Linked DNA regions of Homo sapiens: all the other regions are linked to region 1. Evidence: fine-mapped expression QTL. A gene starts in region 1. Each other region holds a variant in brackets. All regions are shown on one strand. Distances are between the middles of the regions. Region 1 holds the start of FIBCD1 (fibrinogen C domain containing 1). Region 2 has its middle 16 kb from the start of LAMC3. Region 3 holds the start of QRFP (pyroglutamylated RFamide peptide).

The links. PIP is the estimated chance that this variant, and not a neighbour inherited with it, causes the effect.
Region 2: its variant is fine-mapped to the expression of FIBCD1 in whole blood (TOPMed, PIP above 0.99). The same link has a PIP of 0.9 or more in blood mononuclear cells.
Region 3: its variant is fine-mapped to the expression of FIBCD1 in whole blood (TOPMed, PIP 0.99).

Annotation. Positions count from the first base shown.
Region 1 is chr9:130,935,423-130,943,595 of GRCh38, reverse strand. FIBCD1 (fibrinogen C domain containing 1) reads left to right here and starts at 4,349. Exons shown (of 7, transcript NM_032843.5): 1 at 4,349-5,060. The coding sequence starts at 4,989. FIBCD1-AS1 (FIBCD1 antisense RNA 1) reads right to left here and starts at 3,250. Exons shown (of 3, transcript XR_930398.3): 1 at 3,154-3,250. RefSeq lists silencers at 110-283, 2,200-2,494, 4,263-4,472 and enhancers at 2,052-2,271, 3,717-4,647.
Region 2 is chr9:130,988,623-130,996,795 of GRCh38, reverse strand. No RefSeq gene overlaps it. Among named protein-coding and RNA genes, the nearest start is that of LAMC3, 16 kb to the left of the region's middle. RefSeq lists an enhancer at 1,152-1,708. The variant T/C (reference allele first, on the strand shown) is at 3,544.
Region 3 is chr9:130,888,859-130,897,031 of GRCh38, reverse strand. QRFP (pyroglutamylated RFamide peptide) reads left to right here and starts at 220. Exons shown (of 3, transcript NM_198180.3): 1 at 220-455; 2 at 1,051-1,335; 3 at 3,194-4,325. The coding sequence starts at 3,194. The coding sequence ends at 3,604. RefSeq lists enhancers at 725-1,411, 1,412-2,099, 2,888-3,402. The variant C/T (reference allele first, on the strand shown) is at 3,250.

The sequences.
Region 1 (8,173 bases):
CACTGCACAGTAGTTTTCCACGCCACAGAAGCCAAGATACATTTATTTTTAATGATAAATGTGACTGTCAGAGTCAAGTTGAAACAGCTTTATGGCGAGAGCTGAGTACCCTTGGCAGTGCGGGGCAGAGGCTGAGTGGATGGGGACCAGAGGTCCCGACCTTCTGGCCAGCCAGTCCCCCAGGCCCCGAGAGACTGGCACATTGGCTATTCTGCCCACGTCCGCTAAGCCCTGCTGCATGCTGGCTCAGCACGCTCACCGGGTGGCTCAGGCCCAGCTCTGGCAGACGAAGAGGCACCGAGGTATTGAAGAAAGAGAGATAGTCTCTGGAAGTGCACACACTAGGGTTCAAATTCTGCCCCACCGGCCAGGCGCAGTGGCTCATGCCTATAATCCCAGCACTTTGGGAGGCTGAGGTGGGCAATTCATGAGGTCAAGAGATCGAGACCATCCTGGCCAACATGGTGAAACCCTGTCTCTACTAAAAATACAAAAATTAGCTGGGCGTAGTGGCGTGTGCCTGTAGTCCTAGCTACTTGGGCGGCTGAGGCAGGAGAATCGCTTGAACCCGAGAGGTTGCAGAGAGCCAGTGAGCCGAGATTGCGTCACTGCACTCCAGCCTGGCGACAGATCGAGACTCCGTGTTAAAAAAAAAAAAAAATTCTGCCCCACCAATGGCTGTGTGGTCTTGATTGAGTTACTTAACCTCTCTGAGCTTCTGTTGCCTCATCTAGAAAATGAGGCTATTAATAACACTTACAGGTCTTGGGTGAGGATTACTTGAAATAAGATGGTATTGTTAATGGTATTGCTGTATCCAGCACATGGAAATGTTTGGTAAATGGTAATTCCATATTGATTTTTTTTTTTTGAGACAGTCTCACTCTGTCGCCAAGGCTGGAGTGCAGTGGCACGATCTCGGCTCACTGCAACATCTGCCTCCCAGGTTCTAAGTGATTCTCCTGCCTCAGCCTCCGGAGTAGCTGGGATTACAGGAGTGCACCACCACACCTGCTAATTTTGTATTTTTAGTAGGGATGGGGTATCACCATGTTGGCCAAGCTGGTCTCGAACTCCTGATCTCAGATGATCTACCTGCCTCGGTCTCCCAAAGTGCTGGAGTTACAGGTGTGAGCCACTGTGCCTGGCCCCATATTGATCGTATCATCTTATTAATTACACAATTACCCAGGTCATGTAATTTACCTTTCTGAATCAGTTTCCTCATCCACAAAGTGGGGACAATAGTATTCACTTATTAGGGGGCTGGGAGGATATGAGGTGCCCAGCACAGCGCTGAGCGTGAGGGTGCTTCCAACAGGTGGCTGTTGGTCACGGCTGGCACCCTGAATGTTGTCCCCCTATGTCCCTTGCTGCTCTTCCTTGTCTCCCCATGGACTATTTTTCCACCCCTCCCATGTCGCCGTACTGCCTGCCCTGCACCCACTCCCTGCTAAGGGAGGGGTCCTGCATTAGGGCCCCAGCAGCCATGCCCCCACATTGGACCTGACCAAGGTCTGATGGGTTGGTACCTGACCAAGGACAGCTGTCTTTGGCCATCTGCCACTTATGATTGATATGCCTGGTTCAGTCCTAGATAGGAGTTGCCCATTGGTGGGGCCATCATATCCAGGTGGCCTTGGAAAGGCAAAGTAGGAACAGGCAGAATTGGTGAGCCAGAAAGAGGAAGGTGAGGGGATGCGCAGAGAGTGAACAAGTTACCAGGCAACCTCGAGTCTAATACCATGCAGCCTCCCGGTCCTGTGTTCTGGCACCCTGAGGTGCTGGCTCGTCCCTGACAAGGAATGCTCAGTCTTGGGCTGGCTGGAAAGCCCTGATTCTGTCCTGTCCCACCTGCTGAGCACAGCCCAGCTCGCCCCCAGTGCTCTGTGGTCATCAGCCTTGTCAAAGGGAAATCCGAGGGTGGAGGGCCTGTCTGCTCTGTGGGGTCGGCTGCCCTTTCTCTCGCACAGATCTTGGCTGTGGGTCAGCACTGGCTTCTGGGATCCACTTCCATTTTATTCCTCTCCACCAATTCGGAGGCTCCAGTGAATGGGGGCGGCCCTCCCTTCTTCCAGAACGATGTCCTAAGTGTGTCTGCTGAGTGCAGTGTGTAAAGCGCTGAGCAGACGCCTGCAGGCTCATGCCAGTCCTGCATCACGGCTGACCCTTCTCCTGGGGTGTTGAGCAGAGGCGTCAGCACAGAGGGGGTGACAGAGTGAGGCCCGCTCCCGAAGACACACACGTAAGGCACTCCCGCAGGCTGAACCTGTGGCTGAGCAGGTGAGATGATTCAACCTCCAACCTCCTCCAACACTCCCAGCAGGAGCCGCTAGGTGGCCCCCGCTCACCTGTCCAACCGCGCTTCTGCAGGCCCGGGAGGCGATCCTCCAGAGCGTCCTCCGGTCCTCCGGTTTGCACCTGCCCAGGTACGCCCGGGTCACTCCCCTAGCTCCGCCTTCCCTTCTGCGGCCCCGCCATTGGAAATGCCTTTCCTTCAGCACCCAGACTTCTGGATGCTGCCTTCATGGGCCTTGGGGGCGGGCTCACACCCCTCCATCCCAGGATGCCTCCCTGACTACTCTGAGCACATCTCCAAGACCTCCTCCGTTGGTCCTTAGCACCCCTCCCGTGGGTTCTCAGTTCAGCCCCCCACCCCCGCTCCACCCCCCAGGGTGATCTTTCATCTGTGCACAAATGCGTCTGGAGTTTACATCCTCTCGCCAAACTGTGGAGTCAGAGCCTTGCATTTCCGCCACCTGCCCGCTTTGTGCCTGTAACTGCACAAGGGCCTGCAAACCTCGCCACTCCCCACCAATAGGCAAGTCCTTGTTTACGAGGAAACTGAGGCTTGGGGATGACGTGGAATCTGCCCAAGGTCACAGCAGGAACATCTGAGCCTTGCCCTGCTCAGGTGCTGTGATGCACTGTGGCAGAGCCCTTCTGAAGCGTGTGCAGTCAACCCTTTGGCTTACATGGGGAAACTGAGGCTCGGAGAGGTATGTTGCTTGCCCTCAGCCACACAGCCAGGGCCCTGTGCCCTCCACCACATCCTTCTTCCCAAGTCTGAGGGCCCTCTAGATCACCTGCTGACCCTCTTAATTCATAGGAAAGGCCGAGGGGCCAGAAAGGGCCAGAGGCCAGAATTGGAACCTGGGTCTCCTGACTCCCAGCCATTGCTGTGGGATCCTCTCCAACTCCCGGGCAGCCTCAGTCCGGGAAGCCGGGATCGGGCCGTAGGTGAGGCCAGCGGTTGTCCTGGAAGGAAAAGGCGGCTGGGGACAAACAGCCGGTGGTTTGTGAACCCAGCGCCTGGCGGGTGGCAGTCTCCTCGGATGGCACCGGGCCACAGGGTCCCCCGCTCCGGGGTCCAGGGAGTGCCCCAGCCCAGGCTGGACGCGGCCCCCACCCCCAACCAGTCTGCCCCGCCAGTGCCGGACGCGTAGAGGGATCGGGAGAGGGACGAAGATGGGGCGACAGACTGGCAGCCAGTGGGGGAGAGACGGAGACGGTGCCAGGGAACAGCGCGGCGGCCAAGGCGCCCCGGGAGCCGGAAAACAGCTTTGGGGAGAAGCGGGGGCGGGGAACGGGGGTCTGTCTGGAGCTGGGGGAGCAGAAAAAGATGGGGACGCAGAAAGGGGCGGAGGAGGGGCGGCCGGCGGGCTCGGCGGGGCGGCGGGAGGGGAGCGCGGCGTCGGGCAGTGTGGGCGCCTCCCGGTCAGAAGCCACAATAGCAGCTCGTTCGCCGCGCAGATTAAGGACTTTGTCAATTACCTCCGAAGGCCGCTCCGGGCGGATTAAATGCTTTTAAAAGTGCTGCTGGTGGGAAGGGGCAACTAAGAAGCCCCCTCCTGGCACAAATCCCCTCCCGGCGGAGGAGAAGGCGGGGGCTGGGACCACGCGGGGCGCGCCGGGGAGCGCGGGCGATCGGCCGGGAGCGCGGCCGAGCGCGGAGCGGCTGGTACTCGCGACCACAGCGCCGGCGGCTGTGGCAGTGGTGGGGACCCCCATTTCGCCCACGGGCCGCCCGGGCAAGGGGGCGTCGTGTGGGCTTTCCGACCGCGGGCGCGAGGGCACGGGTCTGCGGACGCGGACTGGGACGCCCACCGGCCAGGCTCACGCGTCGGGGTCCGGCGCAGGGAGGTCCCCGGGGGCTGGAGACCCCACAGCTGGGCGCACTTGCCCCGGGACCTGGACCCAGACCTCGGGGGCCCGCAGGGGGCGCACCCCACCGAAACTGCCCCCGGCGCAGCCTGGGTCTTGGGGCGAGCCCTGCGTCCTGAGCCGGGAGGGAGCCGGAAGGAGCGCCGCGCCACTCCCCGGAGACGCCGAACCGGCCGGCGGGGGCGCCCTCGGGGCCCGCCCCGCGCATGGTGACTTGTGTGAGTCCGGTCCGGGAGGAAGTTTGTGCAGAGGCGCCGCCGGGGGGCTCTCAGGCCCCTCCGGGAGCCAGCAGGAGCCGGGCCGCCCGCGGCTGTTTGCTGCCCTCCGGCCGGCCGCGTTATCTGGGGGCCAGTTCGGCCTCCTTTCCCTAGGTCTTTTCGGAGGCGGAGTTTAGTATCCAAGTCCGCGGGTGTGAGCGCGCGCGTGTGTGTGAGTGTGTCGGGGGAGGCCGAGGGGAGCAATAAAAAGCAAAGAGAGTCCGAGACCAGAAAAGATGCGGAGATTGAGAAGGAGGGAGGAGGGACGAGGGAGGAGAGAGAGGAGCGCGCCGGGGAGGCGCCGGAGCCGGGAGCGGGGACGGCGCGCAGCGCGAGCGGCGGGCGTTGGGCTGGCGGCTTTCGCGCTCCCGCTCCTGCTCCCGCCCGCACACAGCGGCGCGCTCATCCTCACACGCCCGCCCGCTCCCGGGCCGCCCCGGCGCGGGGCACAGAGGCGGGGACCCGGCGGACAGAGCGCGCCCCGCGCCCGCGCCCGCGCCCACCCCGTCTCCTTTGCGCTCCGCAGCGGCGCGCCTCGCCCGGCGCCCCCGCCAGTCCTGCCGGAAGATGGTCAACGACCGGTGGAAGACCATGGGCGGCGCTGCCCAACTTGAGGACCGGCCGCGCGACAAGCCGCAGGTACGCTCGGGCGCTGGGACACGGGGCCTGGGCGGCTGGCCAGGCGGTGGCCGCTCGGGCCGGCGGGGCGAGCACCCATTGCGGGGGCTGGAGTTTGGGGCGCACCCCTTCGAGGCTCCGGAGGCCCGGGCCGGGATGGGGACCCTCCTCTCCTCCTCCCCGAGCCGAGGCTTGAACTCGAGGTTCGGTGGGGGCGGCACCCCTGCAGGAGCCACGCGCGCTGCGGGCCAGGTCTCCCGCGTCCCCGCACCCCCAGCAGCCCCCTGGTGCACGCGGGTGCAGAGGGAGGCGGGGACTTACAGTTCGCTGTGTGTCCACAGACAAATCAGCCCCGTTGCTGAGTCTCCGTTTCCTCACCTCTACAATGGGCATCTTAACTACCCACAGAATCTCCACTCTGGGCGCTACCCTGTGCCAGGCACCTGGTCCTGAACCTGACCCCCTGAATCTCCTCTGCATCCTTCCCTTTAGCCAGGGCCCTGCATACAGTAGGGGATCAATAAAGATTCATCTCCTGCAGGAACGCTGGGTATTGTGATTTTCTGACTTTAAGACAAGGAAAGCAGGGCTCAGAGATGGTTGGCTCCTGCCTGAGGCCACGCAGCTCTGTCGGGATTTGAACCCTTGTCTGTGTGCTCCAGGGCTGACTCATTCCTCCCTTCCTGCTGCCTCTTCAGGGGCAGTGGAGGTGGGGCTTGGAGGGTGCCCAGGGCTGTGCGGTGGAAGCGGGTGAGGGCAGAACACCTGGGCTGGCCAGCAAGGGGGCTGGAGTCCCGAAGCCAAGGCGGAGGGGAGCCCCAGGGCTGCCCCAGGCTGGGCTGCCAAGGGACTGGGGCAGGCAGGCGAAAACGAGGAGGCCGCTCGCTCACCAAGGAGAGGAGAGAATAGGGCTGCCCATTTTAAATTTTAAATTTCTTCCAGACAGATGTCATTGGGGAAGGAACAGTTCGTGCTTGCAGCTGCAGGAGGGGGCGGCACGGGCAGCCCTTGGTGGTCCCTTCCTCTCAGGAGCTGCAACCTGCTCATTCTTCCTGGTGTGACACTGCCGTGGCACAAGGGCCCAGCCCTCTGCGGTTTGCAAAGCCCCTTCCCATTCATCGGCACTACCTCACTTCTCCAAACAGGCTGGGGGCCAGTGCGTTCCCACATCACAGACCAGGGATCAGAGAGGTTCGGAACATGCCCAAGTCACACAGCACGTTGGCAAGAGAGTGGGGATTCAAACTCTGGTCTAACCACACACCTATCCCACTGCTTCTCCGGGGTGGTCGCGCCCCTCTTTTAGGTCAGGTCTGCACCTAAGCCACCCCAAAATAACAAGTCCCCTCCTGCTGAGATCTGACTTCTCCCCCTTAGCAAGAACTGTCTTAACTTCTAGACCTGTCCTCCAAGGCCATCCCTAACCTGGCATACTGTGCCTTCCCATTGGTCCCTTACAGGCAGTGACTGTTTGTTATTTGCCAACCCTGGGCCCCACACCACGCCGCTCCATTTCCAGATCTTTTCTGTGTCATCTTGTTTGCTTCCCCAGCCTTACACAAACACACACACACACACACACACCCCTTCACTCAGGGACACCCTACATATACTCAAAATCAAGCTCAAATGCTGCCACCTCCTCCAGGAAGACTTCCTGATGCCCTGTGGCTATGTCTCTAAGTTCTAGTAGTGTTTAGCCTGTGCCACTCAGCTGCCTTGTCCTGGGCCCCTCCTGCATCAGGAGATCCCTTTGGACACACCCTCCTCTGGAGCCCATCTCTGCATCTCTCCCTGGGCCCAAGCTCCATTCTTTCCAGGCAGCTCAGGTCAGGCATTGAGAGCGTTTGCTGAATGGCACTGCATGACGCTTCGGCCAGGAAGAGCCTCAGGAGACGGCCAGCAGGCACTGGTCTGTCTCAAGGGGAGGTGCCTTCTGGGGAATGTGTTTGAAATGTGGCTTCAAGGCCTCCAGGCCGGGCCCCGCCTTCCTCTGCTGCTCCCTGGGGGCACAGCTTTCAGCCCCCACACAGCCCAGCTGTCTGCCCCTTGGCATTGGAGGAAGCTCGAGGGCTGTTGCTCCAAGAGCCTGGGCCAATAGCAAGCACCCGCTTCCCCTCCCCGCCCGTTTGGTGACCCAGCATGTAGACAGGCTGTTCCCTGTGCCAGCTCTGGGCTTGTTTGAAGCTTCAGACAAGAGGCAAGGCCTTTCCTGTGGCCACTGTCAGAAGAAAGAGAGAACACTGCTTGCCCTGGTTCCCTTGGGCCTGCCCTCTCCTGGGCCAGCCTTCTCTCCTCCCTTGTGGCCAGGTTTGTCTCACCCACTGACATGCTGTGTGGCCCTGGGTAAGTTACTCCTCCTCTCTGGGCCTGGGCTTCACCATCTGTAAAGTGGGAACAGCAATCTTCGCTTCCTCCTCATTTCACAAGGGCTGTTATGGGGGCCACGTGACATACTGGTGTGTTTTGCAAACTGCAAAGCACTGTGTACTCATGAGGAGGATGCCTCTCGCAGCAGCCTGTCCCTTCCACAGGCTGGCTGTGTCCCGGTCTCCTCTCTGCCCCCCAGGAAACGCCATCTGAACATCTGGTTCCTACAAACGGGGCCTGGCCGAGGTTCTTTAACGGGGATTTTCCTCTGGGAGCATAACGCTGACGCCGCACTCCAAGCACCAGTAGGTCACAGGCCACGACTAAGATTCATTTCTTAGTCACAGCCACCCTAGGAGCTTGGTGGCAGGAGTGATGAACCCATTTGACAGATGAGGAAACTGAGACTAAGAGCTGGAGCTGGGACTCAAACCTGGGTCTTCTTGGACAGCAGACAAGTGCCTAAGGGGTGGCTGGCCGCCCTTTCTTGGTTCAGCCCACTCAGCCCCAGTTGGGACTGCAGTGTCCAGGCTGTGTGGTTCTCAGGGTACCGAAATCACCCGCTGTGAGTGGGTATAGCCCAGGTCCGGAGGTCCTGAAGGACCTTTGTCCAAGTGCAGCCATTTCTGGGAAACGCCTTGGGCCCCATCTGTCCCAGCCCTATCCAGCCTCAGCTACTCTTTGTCGGGCGACCTTGGACAAGTTGCCGATTTGGACTTTGTTAATGCGTCCTCCCTCTCCCTACAGAAGGAGGAGCCTCTCAC
Region 2 (8,173 bases), 53 kb before region 1:
GGTGTGGTAGGAGGAGCTGATGCGTGTGCACGCATGTGTGTGTGTTCCATGTGTCTGATATGTGTGTATGTGTGTCCAATATGTGTGCGTGTCCAGTGTGTGTGTGTGTCTCTGATGTGTGTGTGTGTGTCCAGTGTGTGTGTGTCTCTGATGTGTGTGTGGGTCCGATGTGTGTGTATGTGTCCCATGTGTCCGATATGTGAGTGTGTGTGTCCAATATGTGTGTATGTCCAATGTGTGTGTGTCTCTGATGTGTGTGTGTGTGTCTGATGTGTGTATGTATCCAATGTGTGTGTGGGTCCGATGTGTGTGTGTATCCGATGTGTGTGTGGGTCCGATGTGTGTGTGGGTCCGATGTGTGTGTATGTGTCCCATGTGTCTGATATGTGAGTGTGTGTGTGTCCAATATGTGTGTGTGTCCAATATGTGTGTGTGTCCAATGTGTGTGTGTCTCTGATGTGTGTGTGTGTCCTGTGTGTGTGTGTCCGATGTGTGTGTGGGTCTGTTGTGTGTGTGTGTCCGATGTGTGTGTGGGTCCGATGTGTGTGTATGTGTCCCATGTGTCTGATATGTGAGTGTGTGCATGTGTGTCCAATGTGTGTGTGTGTCCATTGTGTGTGTGTATGTGTCCGATAAGGAATGTGCCTGCGTTGGGGACCTAGGGGGCTCCTGCAGAGGCCTGGCCTTGTGCTTGGGCTACCAGCAAAGGTAGCAGGCTCCCTCCCGGAAGCCCACCTACTAAGGGTTAAAACCTTCCGGGAGAAGAAAGAAGGGAGAAAAACCCTGTTGTTCTGATTTGCTTAATGAACGTTAATTAAGAAGACAGAAGAGAGCTGATTCCTTCAGGACAGAGATGAAAGGCCTGTTAATTAAATCTGGGGAGATCGGCCAGGGCCCTGCTGATCTCTCCTGACAGCTCTGCAGCCTCGTTGGAGCCCAGCGTTGGGGGCACAGCGCAGAGGGGAAAGGCAGCTCCCCCTGCCCCCACCCTGCAGCTTTGGAGCCCAGACTCACTGTGGTATCTTGGGTGGGGCTCTGCCCTTCTAGGGCGGCTCAGTTCCCCATGTGGACAGCAAGAGCATTGGTCTAGGTGGTTCCCAGGATGCCAGGTCTGGCTCAGAGGCTCTGTTAAGCCTGTGCTCTCTGTCCGCATGCCTGGGTCTCGATCTTCCCTTCTGTTCGGTGGGGAGACATCACTTGCTCTGCAGGCAGGCTTCAAGGGCAGGAAGTGAAAACTGGGAGGTCTGCCAAGGGCTTGTGGACAACTGTGGAAGAAAGAAGTTAGCAACTGGCGACATCAGCCCCCAGGATCCCACTGCTAGGCCCACGCCCATCTGTCTGTATTGCAGCATATCCCTGGGCACTGCCCTGCCCCTCTGAGCAAGGACAAGGTCACCCCCTGAGAGGCCTCCTGGGAGTCAGACCTGGGCTGAGTGCACCACCTCCACAAGTAGTTACTGTTATTCTCCCCATATTGCAGACAGGGAAACTGAGGCCCAGCCAGAGACAGCTCCTTGCCCAGGACCACTCTGCTCGTCAGCAACAGAGAGCCGTGTACACACCCCAGTGTGCCCGGCCCCAGAGCCTGTGCGCCTTTCCACTTTGCTCTCCATTCATTCATTCATCCATCCATTCATTCATTCTATTACTTTAGGGGACATTTGTTCTGTGCCCTCCCTGGGCTGGTTGCTGAGGTACAGGGGATAGACTGTCTGGGACCTCATGGTGCTCCCCAGAGAATCAGGAAGACAGACAGTGACCCAGGAAGCAACCTGGTGAATTAGTTAGTGACTGATCACGGTAAGAGCCGCAAAGGAAATAGACACAGGGCTGGGATGAGCTCCATGAGGGGGTGAGCAATCAGGGAGGCTTCTCAGAGGAGGTGACAGCTCACTGGAGACCTGCAAGATGAGATGGGAGGCAGGATGGAGAGGGAGCTGATGGGAGCTGACAGGGGGCCCCTCAGCTGTCACCCTCACGGAGCATCTCCTCCTACAGAGTTAACAGATTTAGACAGGCCAAGGGACATGACTGGCCTCAGGGCATGTCACTACTCAGTCTAGCAACTGTCTCAACCTCCCTGCTGTGTTCAGCCTGAGGTGGGTCTGGGCCTGGATGAGTCAGCCCTGGGCAGCCCTTCAAGTTCAGGGGGTTCAGAAGAATAAAGGATGTCCCCTTCTCGGTGGTGCAGGGGCCACAGGCTGGGCTACAAAGGAGATAAACGTGGTTATCTATCCATTCATTCATTCATTCCTTTATCCACTGGACAGATGTTTACTCAGCCCACACTCTGGGCCCTGGGCTGGACACAGGGGACAGAGTGATGAATAATGATGAAACTGTCCCTGCACTTTAGGGATCCAAGAAGCTGTTAATAACAACACAAGGCTGTAAGCACCAGGCAGTGAGAGTGGAGACCTGATGCCTAACACAGTCTGGAGAGATCAGGGAGGGCTTCCTGGAGGAGGTGGAGTCTCAGCTGAGACCTGGAGGAGAATGGAGTATCCAGGAAAAGGGGTTGGGGAAGAGCATCCCAGGCAGACAGCAGCATGTGAAAGGCTCAGAAGCGGAGGATGGGGGTGGGAGGATGGGCATTTGAGGAGTGGGGAGGGTGGAAAAGGGGAGCCAAGAAGGGCCCAGGACATCCTGCTGGAGAGCCTGGACTTCACCGGGGGGCCATGGGGAGCTGTGGGAAGATTTTCTCTTGGGATGTGCAGGGAGATTGGCCCGCTGGGGGTGGTGTGGAAGCAGAAATGGTTTGGCAGCTGCTGCAGGGACCCGAGGAGAATGAGGTGGTAGCCTAAACAGGAGCAGGGAGGAGCTGGGGTCTGCAGGACCCGGGAAGCAAACTGTGGCCCCTGGGCATGGGGGTATCTGTGCCAGAAGGCACTGGGGACAGAAAATCACCCAGTTGGGCTGGCGGGGTGGTGAGCAAAGCTGAGGCTGGCTCTGGGTCTCTGGCTGGGCCCTGGGTGGGCGTGCTGTGCTCAGACAGGGTCGCCGGTCCAGGAGCAGGCCTGGGGGAGATGGGGAAGCCGTTGTCAGTGCTGAAGTTCTGTGCCCAGAGGAACCCAGGAGGCCAGACTTCTCCTGGCTCGGCCCCTCCCACGCTGTGTGTCCTTGGGCAGGTCCCTTCCCCTCTCTGGGCCTCAGGGTTCCCATCTGTATGATAAAGGGAAGCAAAGGATGTCCTCTGAGGCCTGCCTAGAGTGGCTTCCCTTTCCCAAGGCTCTCCCAGGGGTCCAGGCTGTCCCCCCACCAGTGAGAGGCTCCAGCCCCAGCCTCTGGCCCCTGCTGGCCCCCACTGCCACTTCCTCTGGGGACCCAGGGTCCCCAGCAGCTTCCGTTGGGCCTGGCACTTCCCTATAAAATGCTGGCAGCCACGTCCACACTGATACAGCACCCCCTGCCCAGTGCCCAGATACGGCCCCCACAGCTCACAGTGCCACGTGTCACCCACAGATGGGCCCGGCCAGGGATCCAGGAACCCATCCCGTGGGTGGATTAAACACCTCAGGCCCCTACAGTGGGCTTTGTTGTACC[T/C]CTGACCCCACCACAGACGAGGAGCCCTTTGAGGGCAGGCAGGGAGTGGGTCTGACTCCTCCCCTGGGCAGGTGGCAGGGTAGATGCTCACAAAAGGCAGAGGGGATGAATGAAAGCTGACAAATGAATGGGAAGTGGACGGAAGAATGGACAGAAAAGGAATGAATGAGTGAGAGTGAATGAATGATGGTGAATCAATGAAGCGGGAGTCAGGGGTGAATGTGTGCTGCTTCAAATGAGAGCCTTTCCTCCCTGGGTTCTCCAGCGGCCTCTGCCCCAGCTCTGCGGGCCTCACTGTCCCTACAGGAGGCACTACTTGATTGCCCCCTACCCAGTTCTGGTTTCAGTGACCACACCTGCCATCCTGTCCCCTTGCCCACTGGGCTGGCTGCAGCCACACGGGCCTCCTTCCCGATCACACAGAGCACGTTTCCACCTCGGGGCCTTTGCACTTGCTGCTCCTCGTGCCTGGAACGCTCTTCCCACACTTTCTTCTGCATCCCTTTATGGAGAGGCCGTCCCAGACCCTCCTGCTGACCTTCCCCAGGACTCCCCTGCCACTCTGCGGGTTTTCCCCCCTAGCCCTCACCGCACCTGCTGGGCATGTTTTTGCTTGTCTGTTTGTGGCCCGTCTGCCCCCTCAGGCCATGAGCTCGGCCTCGCTTGCTGCTGTGCGGCTGCAGGAGGAAGACACTGGTCTTCGCCAGCAGTTCTCACTGCAGGGAGGCTGTCCTTAAACAATAATTTCGTTTCCGAGCTCTTTCTGCTGAGGACAAGGAAACAGCAATTATAAGTCACCAGAACCCAGTTATAACCCAAGTGTAAGTCAGCAGAACCCATCCAGGGACGGGAGGCACATGCACAGCTCCGGCTGCCCTAGGGCCTGGCCATCTGAGCGCCACGTGCACTGAGCCTCACCTGAGCAGGACCCCAGTCCGCACCAGGGGCCTGGCACGACCCTGCAGGGCCCCCATTCCCCTCGGGTAAAGGGGATCTCTTGAGCTGAAGCTCCTAAGACTCCAGAACTCACGGGCCTCTTCTAGACCCTCAGGCATCCCTGGCCCCCCCATCCCAGGACTTTGCACCCGCGGGTCCTGAAATGCCCTTCTGCCTCTTCTCGCCAGGGTGGGGTGGCGGCTGACTCCTGCTCCTCCTCTAGGCCTGGGGTGATGCCACTTCCTCAGGGAAGCAGTCCCTGGTGCCCCAACCCTGTGACACCTCCCCTGCTTCCAACTTTGTGGCATTTCTCACACTTGTCATTAAGTGAGTATTTCATGTCCCTCTTTCCCACTTGACTGTCAGCTCCTGGGGACAAGAATCCTGGGGCTTCCTGCTGTGTCCTTGACATACACCCAGGAAGGATGTGCACTAGGTGCTCAATAAATAGTGCAGAATGAAAGAACAAGTGAATGGGTGAGTGTGTGAAAGGAGGGAGGGAGGGCAGAAAGCAGGCAGAAGGCTGGGAGAAAGGAACTGGCCAGCGAAGCTCGGGGAGGGGGGTGGCTGTTCTCCCAGGACTGATGGCTTTTAAGCGGGGGAGTGAAGGCCAAGGGCAGGGAAGGAGCCAGCAGGCCGGTGACAGGGAAGTGATCTGCGAGTGCCTCGCCCTTCACGTGGCTTTATTTTGAAAACGTGAACTTTACAAATGTCAGGGAAAGGCGGGATTCTCCGCCTGGGACCGCCAGGAGCCGATTAGCATTCCCGGCGATGCGCAAATGGGGCCCTGCATAGGCCGCGGGAAATTTCTGCCGCCTGCTGGGGCTGATGTGAAGGCCAGGCGAGGGGGCTCAGAAAATAAAACTGTAAAGCTGCCAAGTCTATGCCTGCCCAGGAGGCACGGCCTGGTGGAGGCCCCTGGGGGACAGAGAGGTGGATTCAGTATAACCCCCAACCCTCCGCGGGACAGGGTAAAAATGGGGGCCACTCAGAGTAGGTGGGGTTAGGGGGCACCCCCCGCTGTGTCAGAATCAGAGAGGTGACCCCTCCTGCTCACCCCCATTGGGCCAGGCTCCGTCCCCACCACCTGCCATACAAACCATCCAGATTCATCCTCAAGATGATCTTATGAGGGAGGGGCGTTGCCCCCAGGCTGCAGATGAGAACACTGAGGCTCAGGGAAGCAGAGGGCTTTGCCTGAGATCGCTGATCCTGAGAGGGTCAGGCAGGATTGAAACCCAGTTCTCCAACTCTCTTAGCAGCCTCCTGGCCCTGTCCTTCCCCACTTCTCCCAGCTTCCAGGACAAACCCCATTTAGGACAGTCCACAGCCTCAGTGTCCGGCTAGGTCTCCCCCTGCTTGGGGAGCTATGTGAGGACTGCCAGAGCTTTCACATGCACGTCGCTCCCTCTGCTCGGAGCACCCTCCCCACTGCAGCCCCTTGTCTTCCCCTTCAGGTCTCCGCGGAGATCAGTCTTCTCCATAGTTTATTGTCAGTCCCCACCCCCGTCTCTGCAATGGGGATATTCTTTGCAAATTGATTTTCATGCACACACGTGTCTCAAGGATGTGCTGGGGGCTATCGGGTTTCCACTGGGATCTGTGAGGGGAGGACGTGGGAAGGGTATCTGTGTGTTGGTGTGTGTTTGTGTGTGTGTACATGTGTGCATGTTGGCGGCGTGTGTGTGCGTGTGTTGTGGGTGCGTATGTGTGTGTGCACGTGGTGTGTGGCTGTGGGATGTATCTGTGTGTGTGGCAGGACCCATGGGGCCCTGAGGGGGACAGGCCTGGCGCAGGAGCCCTCAGCACAGCCAAAGGAGGAAGGCGGCTGGGACTGGTGGCGGAGCGAGGCCCGTGGTGGTCACTGGAGCTATGCAGGAGCGGAGCTGTGAGCTTGTTGTAGATAAGTCCCAGCCTGGCCCAGGGTGCTCTGGGATCGGGGAGACACAGGATGGGAGCACCTGGAAGTGGGGGGCTCCAGGCCAGTGGCAGGTCCAAGACCACGGGGAGGGACTCAGCAGGAAGTGGGCGGCTCCAGGCTAGTGGCTGGCCCAAGAGCACGGGGAGGGACTCGGCAGCCCACTTGAATCTCGGAGCCCAGGGGTCCACCCGAGATGGGGACCGAGGAGAGGCTGTGGCCTCTCCAGCTAAGTCCTCCCACAGGCTGGTGTCCGGTCCCCAGCAGGGGACAGTCCTGGGGATCAATGATGACCCCAGGCTCAGCCACTGAGCCTCTCTGTGACTCCGAGGGCAGGGCCCCGCGAAGGGCTGGGCCGCTGTCGGCCGGTTCGCGCATCCCCCGCACCTGGCACGGCTAGCACGGTCCCCGTCCGACTCTGTGCAGTGGGTGCCTGGCCTGTGCCCACGCATGCAGGGCCTCCCGCCATCCTCCAGGCAGCCCTGGGACAGAGGCTGCTCTCCTGTGCTCAGATGAAGAAGCGAGGCGCAGGGATGGGGGACTTACCGAGGGTCCCAGGGCTCAGAGATGCTGGTGCTTGGTTTTTGAAGATGTGGTTTGACTCCAGAACGGAACTTCTGGCATGCCCGTTGGGCATGGAAGCAGGAAGGTGCCTGTGAGAGAGCCCGGCAGCCTCACCCTGTGGGGCGTGGGGTTCCCATGGGAGAGGAGGGCAGGGGGAAGTCCTCAGTGCTCTCAGCCCACAGAAGGGCTGGGACATGCCCTCCTGGGCCCTGGGCAGAATCCTCCAGGATTCCTGCAATCGAGTGGCAGAGCGGCATGGGCTTGGGTCCTGAGTATGGACACCACGGCCCAGTGGCACGCAGAGGGCAGGCAGGGCAGCCCGCCAACGGAGGCCCCTAAATAACAGGGAGTGACCGGCACGTCTGCTGCTCATCCCAGCCGGGGGACAGGCTCCGGCTTCATAACGTGTGATCGATGGGCCTAATATGGGACTGGAGACGGCGGGCTGGCAGCCCCGGCCTGGCCCGCCGGCTGCCATTTGCCCACATATTTATTTATTTATGCATTCTCCTCCATGGCAAAAGCCCAAAAACAATAAAAGAAATTGAATTGCATATCAGATGGGACATCAGAGGGAGATACGGCCATAAATTGCACTGTATTTATTCCATAAATATCAGCACCTCCCGAATCACCAGTGCCCGTTATGAAGTTATAATCAGGAATCTGGTCCTGTGATGCTCGCCGCCAGCCCCTCCCCCGCTAGACAAACAAGCCAGGTCCCTGAAGTCAATAACCACTTCCCCAGGCCACCTGTCCCCATGAAGGGACATCTGCCCATCCCAGTTGCCCCACCCAAAGTGAGGGACCACAGGAAGGGCAGGAGGTGGCTGGAATTCCAGGTGGCCCAGGCCTGGATGTAGCGAGCCCGGAGGGAGCACAGTTTCTCCAGGCCCTCTGTCTCCCTCCTGCCCCCCAACCGTACTACAACCTGGTTGGAGCCACCATCCTCTCTCCATTGCCACTTTGTGTGTGTGTGTGTTGGGGGAGGGGGGGTGTGTGTAATTTACATTCAGTGAAATGCATGCATTACAATTATGTAGCTCAATGAATTTTTACATGTGTATGCACACATGAGACCACAGATCAAGGCAAAGAACATTTGTCACTCCCAGAAGTTCCCTCATCCTTCTGCCCACTGCCATCGAGATCACCTCTGTCTTCTATCACCAGAGCACAGTCAACAACTTCTAGAACTTCAGACCAATGGAA
Region 3 (8,173 bases), 47 kb after region 1:
GGAGCACTGAGGCACCCAGAGGGCAGGCATCCGGTCCAGGCTCATAGCACGGTAGAGACCCACCCTGGGCGGCACCCCATGGATAACTGGTGCCCGCTGTCAGAATCAACCAGCACTAACCAGGGAGACAGAAGGACACCACACCTCCCGTCTCACGAGCACACACACGTGTACGCACGTGTGCACATACTCATGTGGGGGCATACACACACATGCACACACAGGACAGGGGCACCTCAGGCCATCGGAGGCAGCCCTGGCCTGGGGGATGGAAGCTGGTTCTGGCCAGCAAAGCTCAGTCATCGGCTTCAATCCGCAGACCCTCCGCCCGAACCTGGGCGCTCAGCCCCGAAGTGGAGGATCGAGATTCCAGTGCCTTCCTCAGGTCTCTGGGGAAGTGTCCACAGGCTCTCTATTCCCATGACTTCTGATCCCCCAGCAGCCGGGATGCAGGGGTAGGTCGGCTGGGTGAGGGCCCCTGGAATGGGGGAGGCCCTCTGTGCTCAGTTCCTGACAGTGGTGGGGTGGGGCTGCCTCATCACCCCCCTGCCTGCTCTCAGTGGAGGGAGAATCTCTGCCGGGCAAGGAGCAGAGGCTGGGTCCTCCTGCTGGCCTCCCAGAGGTGACCCTCGGTGACAGTAGGGGGCCACCCAGGGTATGCGGTGGGAGGGGCTGGGGGCCACAGGCAAATGCTCCACTGCTGTCCTGGGCATCTGCCGTGCCCCCTTGGTTGGTTCCTGGGTAACAGGCCGCTGAGGGCTCCACCTGCCGGGGAGGTGCACCTGGCTTAGCCGCGCAGCCCGGTGCCTGTGAAACACGGGCCTCATGGGTGTCTGTGGCTTTCCTGCCCATGAAAGCCATCCTGCAAGCTGGGCAGTAGGTGTGTCGGGTAGATGTCCACCCACCCCATGTCCTCTCCGGAGCGTGAGGTGCCAACCCAGCAAAGGCAGGACCCTTAGGGTGAAGGGTGGGCTTGGAACCCCCGCCAAGGGACTCGAGGGTCTGTGCCCGCAATTTGCAGTTAATGATGCTGTCTGCTCTCCTCCAAAGGGCAGCCCGCCTGCCCTCTCATCAGACTACATCCTGTGTGAGGTTGTTTTTATCAACGCGGTCAGCACTGCCCCTCTTCAACAACAGCGTCCCCAATGGAATCCCAGGGTCAGGAATGCGCAGCAGGCAGTCGGCAGAGCAGCAAGCGCACCGCGGGCCATATAAAGCAGGGAGAGCCCAGGGGCCATGCCTCCTGGACGAGGACCCAGAGCAGCTCTGCCCAGCCCAGCCCCGGAGCCCAGCGATCCACCAGCCAGCCTTCCTGGGAGCAGTCCCAGCCACACGGTGAGCATAGCTGCCCTGTCCCCAGCAGGAACCCCAGCTCAGGCCCTGCCCAGGCAGGAGCCAGGCATGGGCAGTCAGAGGGCACACAGAAGCACAGGGAGGGAGTGCCCGGAGAGGGGACACCAGTGCCTCCCCTGCCAACAGCCCAGAGCAGCACAGATTGGTCACGGCTGCCCTGCCAGGGCTGGGACCCAGCCTCACCCGTGCTTTTCCTGTCCCTTCCTGGCTGTGGGGCCTGAAGCCCTGACTCGCGCTGGGGCCGCCTGTCCCGTGATGAGCATCCCCACTTTCTACCAGATTCTTGAAGGGGTGCATGAACCCCTAAAAGGGGTGAAGGGCCACTCCAGGGCCTGCTCTGTCAGGCTGTCTCCTTTCTAGACACCCAGAGGCCACTCCCGGGTGGATTTATCCACCAGGATGCAACGGTCCCTGGTCCACATCGCAGTCAGCAAAGTGCTTCCTATGGGGAGGAGGGAATGGGCTGGGCCGCTGCAGAAAGTCACCTCGTGGAAGCCCCCACTCTGCCTGCGCCCTGATGGAAAGGTTTTCCTGGCAGCATGAGGGAGGTCACTCCATCCCTGGGGGACGAAAGCTTAGAAGAACTGGATTTGGGTAGAAAGTGGGGTTGCATGTATTATTTTTTTAAAAGCTTCCTGGCTGAGCTCGCTTCTTTGAAATGTGTTCGAGGGAGCCATTTCTGGAAAGGGCTCTGGGGACTCCTGTACTGTCTTCTCCAGGGCCGGTGCTCTCTAGTCTAGCCTCAGTTTGACTCTGCGGAGGACAAGCCAGCTCCAGCTCCCCCGCGGTCATTGTCAAAAAGGTTTTCTTTGCCAGACAAGGGAGCAAGTGTTACCAAGGCAGGTTCATTACAGGAGGCTGGGTTTCAGATCCCCCGAGTGCCATGTGGAGTACAGAGGAGGGAGTTAGGGCACGCCTTCCTGAGTCAAGCCCAGTTAGACCTGGGATTGAACTCTAGCTCTGGCACTGATAAGGCCATGAGATCTGGGGCAAGTCACCTCAGCTGTTTGAGACCGACACCACCCCTGTGAAATAGGAGGGTTGGGAGTACCTAGCAGATATGTATGCTTCTTGAAGAAGCCGTCTGGCCATTAGAATCATGAATCCAGAGCCTCCACTTTCTGGCTGTGTGGCCTGGGCACAATCTCAGTTTTTCTGACAGTTTTGTTGCCTGAAAAAGTGGGACTGGCCGGACCTACCAAGCAGGAGTACTATGAAGATGAAGTACAATCACATGTGTGAGCTCTTGGCTCAGAGCCTGGCAGACCTACGGTGCCCAGGCCCCAGTGGTGTCCACACACTCCTTCCCAGGTGGGTGTCCGAATTAGGCCAGGACCATCCAATCTGTTTCTGGCTTTCAGGAGCAACTCGTTCCCACGTGAAAGAGACATTAGCAGGATGTCCCAGCTAAACAGCATAGCTAGACCCATTTATTATCCAGTTGAACACTAAGGGAGATTGATGCTTTTAACTTTCCACCCCATGGCTCTGCAATGATATGGCCATTTTATAATAAGAGAAAAATGAGCATACATTTGCTGACTCTCCCGGGGCCGCCTGGGCACTGCTCTGCCAGCCAGCAGCGGTGGATTTACGGTGCTAAGCTGCCCAGGCACGCAGATCGTGGGGACTGCAGGAGAAGAACCGGCCTAACTGGCACAATCACCTCCTGATCCTGCTAATAAAACAGTGGCCTAGTCCCAGCACTGCTCGGAAGCCGGGCTCAGCTGAGCCCCCTGCTCACATCTACGCTGCCAGCCTGTCCCGGGGAAACATTTTGGTGAGTTGCGCTTGGCCACGTGTGCAGCCTGTCACTCTGCCTCTCTTTCCTCTGGGTCAGATGGTAAGGCCTTACCCCCTGATCTACTTCCTCTTCCTGCCGCTGGGCGCCTGCTT[C/T]CCTCTACTGGACAGAAGAGAGCCCACAGACGCCATGGGTGGCCTCGGAGCTGGAGAACGCTGGGCCGACCTGGCCATGGGGCCCCGACCCCACTCCGTGTGGGGTTCCTCTCGGTGGCTGAGAGCTTCACAGCCACAGGCCCTGCTTGTCATAGCCAGGGGGCTGCAGACATCGGGCAGAGAGCATGCTGGCTGCAGATTCCGCTTCGGGAGGCAGGACGAAGGCAGTGAGGCCACCGGCTTCCTCCCTGCTGCGGGGGAGAAGACCAGCGGCCCGTTAGGGAACCTGGCTGAGGAGCTCAATGGCTACAGCAGGAAGAAAGGCGGCTTCAGCTTCCGCTTCGGTCGGCGGTGAAGGGCCAGGACGCCTTGGAAGGATTTGCTTCTTGGACTCACCCCCATTGTCTTCACTCCTGCCTTCTCCCCCAGTCTCAAAGACCACGACACCCAGATGATGTAGGCTTGGTTACGATGAACGATCCATGGTAGGACAGGTTAGGTGTGTGCTTACTTTTGATTTCCAACTTTGCTGAAGCGAAAAACTAGGCAGTGTCAAAAAGGAGGCTGTCTTGGAGCCTCGGTCGTCCCAGCCTCTCTCTTCCCCTGGGGCTTTGACTCCGAGCAGCCCCCTGGCCCCAGGGGCACGGAGCTGAGGCTGTGGCTGGGCCATGAGTGTGAATAGCAGAGCGAGGCAGCGGGCTGAGTGCTTACAGTTGGGTAATCAAAGTTGTGACAGTCTCTATAGGCACGACTGCGGCTGACATCAGAGTGCAAATGAGTGCATTCCACTGGGTACAGAGGATGGTTCTGAAAGTTAAAAATGGGAAAAAAGAACCCGATCCCCTTCTCCATGCCATGAGCACAAGATCCCCCTGGCAAGAAGCCCCTGCTGTGGTTTGCCTGCCCCTCTGACCGCAGCCCTTCTCCGCGGCCCAGTGTTAGCCCGGCCAGGAGTCTCCTGGGAGATGCGTTGGGAAGGAATCCCGTTTTTGCTATAGCAAGGTTGCATTTCACATGTTCAAAATCAGAATATGTCGTGTGTATCTTTTCAAATAAAAGTTGTGACAACTGCAAAACCATACTGGAATGCTGGCCTCCCCCACAGTCTGAGTTCTGGGTGCCTTGCCTTTCGGGAGATGGAGCTCCTGTTGACTGGACCCAAACACCCCTCCTCTAGATCCCTGTAACCGGCAGTCGGTCAAAGGGGCGGAGGAACACAGCACATGTGCTTTTCACTTCCACTCGGCTGCTCCTTCCCAGGTTTCCTAAGAGCAAGGAACATTCGGAAAACAACTTCTCTGCCCCGGGGAGAGCCCACGCTCAGCCGGGAGTGGCTGCAGGCCCGGGGCCAGGCAAAGCATCTGTTTCAAACGCGCCTTTGGTGTCTCCTGCATCCCATCCCGTGTCAGAGGCGGCGGTCGGATGCTGCTCACTCCCGGGCTGGCTTCCGCTGCTGAGATGAGAACTTACATTGATGTTACTATGGCAACCCCTCCCCTCCTCCTTTCGAGCTGCAGCTTGCCCCTGTTCACAATTGAATAATTTCCCATTGAGCTGTCACAATTAATTGGTGGATTTTTATTAGCCTTTTAGAACCACACTGGGCTGGGCCCAGCTTGGCACCTTGGAGTATTTCACAGTGTTTTCCATGCTATTAGTGACTTATACTCCTCAGTAGCAGCTCTCAATCCTTGGCAGCCAGAAAGCCACTTCATTAAGGGGTGACAGATCTGAGCCACAAAGAACCAACCTGACTGGGGAGCAGAATGGGTGCTGAGATGGGAGAGAACACCAGAGTCAGAACATCACCCGGTATGAAAGCTGCCACCTTCTCCAGGAGCTCCTCACCGCTTCCCCATCGCTTCCCACACAGAAACTAGCCCCCCAGGCTTGGCGCATGTGCCCTGAGTCTTAGGGCTGCTGTGATGGGGACAAGACAATGATTCCTGAGGCTGGTGGAGGGGTGGGGCACATTGTTCTCTTGGGCTCTGCCACTGTCTGAGGACAGAGTGGTTCAGGATGCCTCCTGCAAAGGGATGTTGTCACTGCTTGCTAACATGACACTGATGGGGACGGACACATCCCCGGGGTCCTTGCTGTAAGGACGGCCCTGGCACAGGGTGAACGGACAGATTCGTTCACCACAGGTGTGCACACACACCCCATTCTGCTTGGCTTAAGGGAGGGGGAGGCAGTAAGCTAGATCTATCCCTCCCTTGGCTCATTCACGCAAAGCAGCCAGAGATGTGCTCACCAGAGACCGGGTGAAACACAGCAGGCTGAGGGCAGAGGGACGCCCTGACGCACGGTCCCCTGGCCACTCGTCACTTGCCAACTTCTGCAAGTGAGCAAGGAGCCACCCACAGCCAGTACTTTAGAGAACACCGAGGCTGAGCCACCCTGCACATTCCACAGGCTCTTTGGGGATGCACTGGCTGGTTGTTAATTTAGCAGGATTAGATTAACCTTGATGGAAAAACCTGAGATAAAGAACACGGGGGCGGGGGATGCCTTCAAAGCAGTGGATATGCTGTCATTATGCTTTTATCACTTTAAAAAACCCAACAAAGCTATTCTTTCCAGTTTGCTTGTACACTTGAGCTCAGTAGCCCTGAAAATCCGAACAATCAAGCTGCTAAGGGCACTGCTGTCAAATCAACTCCCGCTGGGCTTGGCTAAGCCTCCTCTTTAACCCGGTGCCCCGCGGCCAAGCCCACCGTGTCTGTCAAGGTCTTTGGGCCTCTCATGCCACCCCAGCGCCCCCTCAGCCCTTGCTCTCTCCTCCACAGATAAGATTACCCCTCTCCAGGAGGGTGAAGTTGAGACTCCAGAAAACATTTATTTTGGAATCAGAGAGATGAAGCTCCCCTGAGCAGTGCTGGCTCACTCCACCTGGCCCGGCAGTTCTAACTACTCCAGCCCAGAGCACCTGCGAGCTGCCAGCATCTGCTCGTTACATTTATCCAAGACACAAGGCGGTCTTCATCTTGGTGTGTAGATCTAAAGGTATTTAGCTATCAAGATGAATGGAAAACATTTGTCTTTTCCTGTATGTTTGAAATACTAATAAAAATATTTAAGAAAAAACCCCAAACAAAACAGGCTCCTGGGGACAGTCAGCCATAGACAGCTGCTGTAGTAATCAAGAGGGAAGCCACCTCATCCTAACTTTGCCCCAGTGCCAAAGACGCTGCTTGACAGATTTCACTGAAGACCCCAAACCTGACATGGTACTTTCCAGCTTCTGGGTAGGGAGCAGGGGCATGCCCTGTGCTGCTGGTGCTCCTCCAATCCGCAGCTCCTTGGCCCCTCGGAAATGCCCTCCCAGAAAAAGAGCTCAGAGATTTCCCTGATTACAGCAGTGATATCAACTGGAGTGTGGGGGCAGGGGAGCAAGACATTAGGTGACCCCCAGGGACGAGGGCAGTGCTGACAGGGACACTGTGGTCAGCCTGGTCTCACCTAATGTCTTCTCGTACGAGGACGTTTAGAGTTTGCTTCCCCAGGGCACTCCGTTTAGAAAGGCCTCCTGAGATGATCTCTGCGGCCCAAGGAGCTGGGCTGGCTGTAATACTTGGCTGCTTCTCTTCCACTGTGGAGGGAGAAATCCGGCCCTGGGCACAGTTCTCTCCTGGTCCTGTTGGGGCTGTCTGCACTGTCTACTGATTAGACTGCCGTGGTAGGCACCAGCTGGTACATGTTGTGTGACCTTGGCCGAGCTGCTTGACATCTCTGAGCCTCTCAGCTTCCTTACCTGTCAGAGGAGGACAGTAACAAAAACTCTCTCATTAAAAAAAGTGGTGGGCTTGGCCGGGTGCGATGGCTCATGCCTGTAATCCTAGCACTTTGGGAGGCTGAGGTGGGTGGATCTCGAGGTCAGGAGATAGAGACCATCCTGGCTAATATGGTGAAACCCCGTCTCTACTAAAAATACAAAAAATTAGCCGGGAGTGGTGTCGGGCACCTGTAGTCCCAGCTACTTGGGAGGCTGAGGCAGGAGAATGGTATGAACCTGGGAGGCGGAGCTTGCAGTGAGCCGAGATGGCACCACTGCACTACAGACTGGGCGACAGTGTGAGACTCGTCTTAAAAAAAAAAAAAAAAAAAAAGTGGTGGGCCGGGCGCACTGGCTCATGCCTGTAATCCAAGCACTTTGGGAGTCCAAGGTGGGCGGATCATGAGGTCAAGAGATCGAGACCATCCTGACCAACATGGTGAAACTCCGTCCCTACTAAAAATACAAAAATTAGCCGGGTCTGGTGGTGCGCACCTCTAGTCCCAGCTACTCGGGAGGCTGAGGCAGGAGAATCGCTTGAACCCAGGAGGCAGAGGTTGCAGTGAGCGGAGATTGTGCCATTGCACTCCAGCCTGGGAGACAAGAGCGAAACTCTGTCTCAAAAAGAAAAAAGAAAAAAAAATTTTTTTTGAGACAGGGTCTCACTCTGGAGCTGGAATCCAGTGGCACGATCATAGCTTGCTGCAACCTCCACCTCCTGGGCTCAAGCAATCCTCCCACCTCAGCTTCCTGAGTAGCTGGACTACAGGTGCCACCATACCCAGCTTATTTTTGTATTTTTTGTGAGATGGGGTCTATGTTGCCCAGGCTGGTCTTGAACTCCCGGCCTCAAGCAATCCACCCACCTCAGCCTCCCAAAGTGTTGGGATTACAGGCATGAGCCACCTTGCCTGGCCTTTTAAGAAAATGTCCAATACCTTAGGCTGGTGTTTTGTAAATAATAACAATGGACCTCGAAGGCAGGACTTGAAATGACCTGGAAACTGCTGGGTGTGTGCACACAGGTGCATTTTTCTGGGGCTGGGATCCAGTTTTCATTAGGTTCTCAGGAGGTTTTGTGACCTAGAAAAGGTTAAGAAACCACTGTCTTGGAATGGCTAGACTAAACTAAGCTCTATAAGCTCAGGT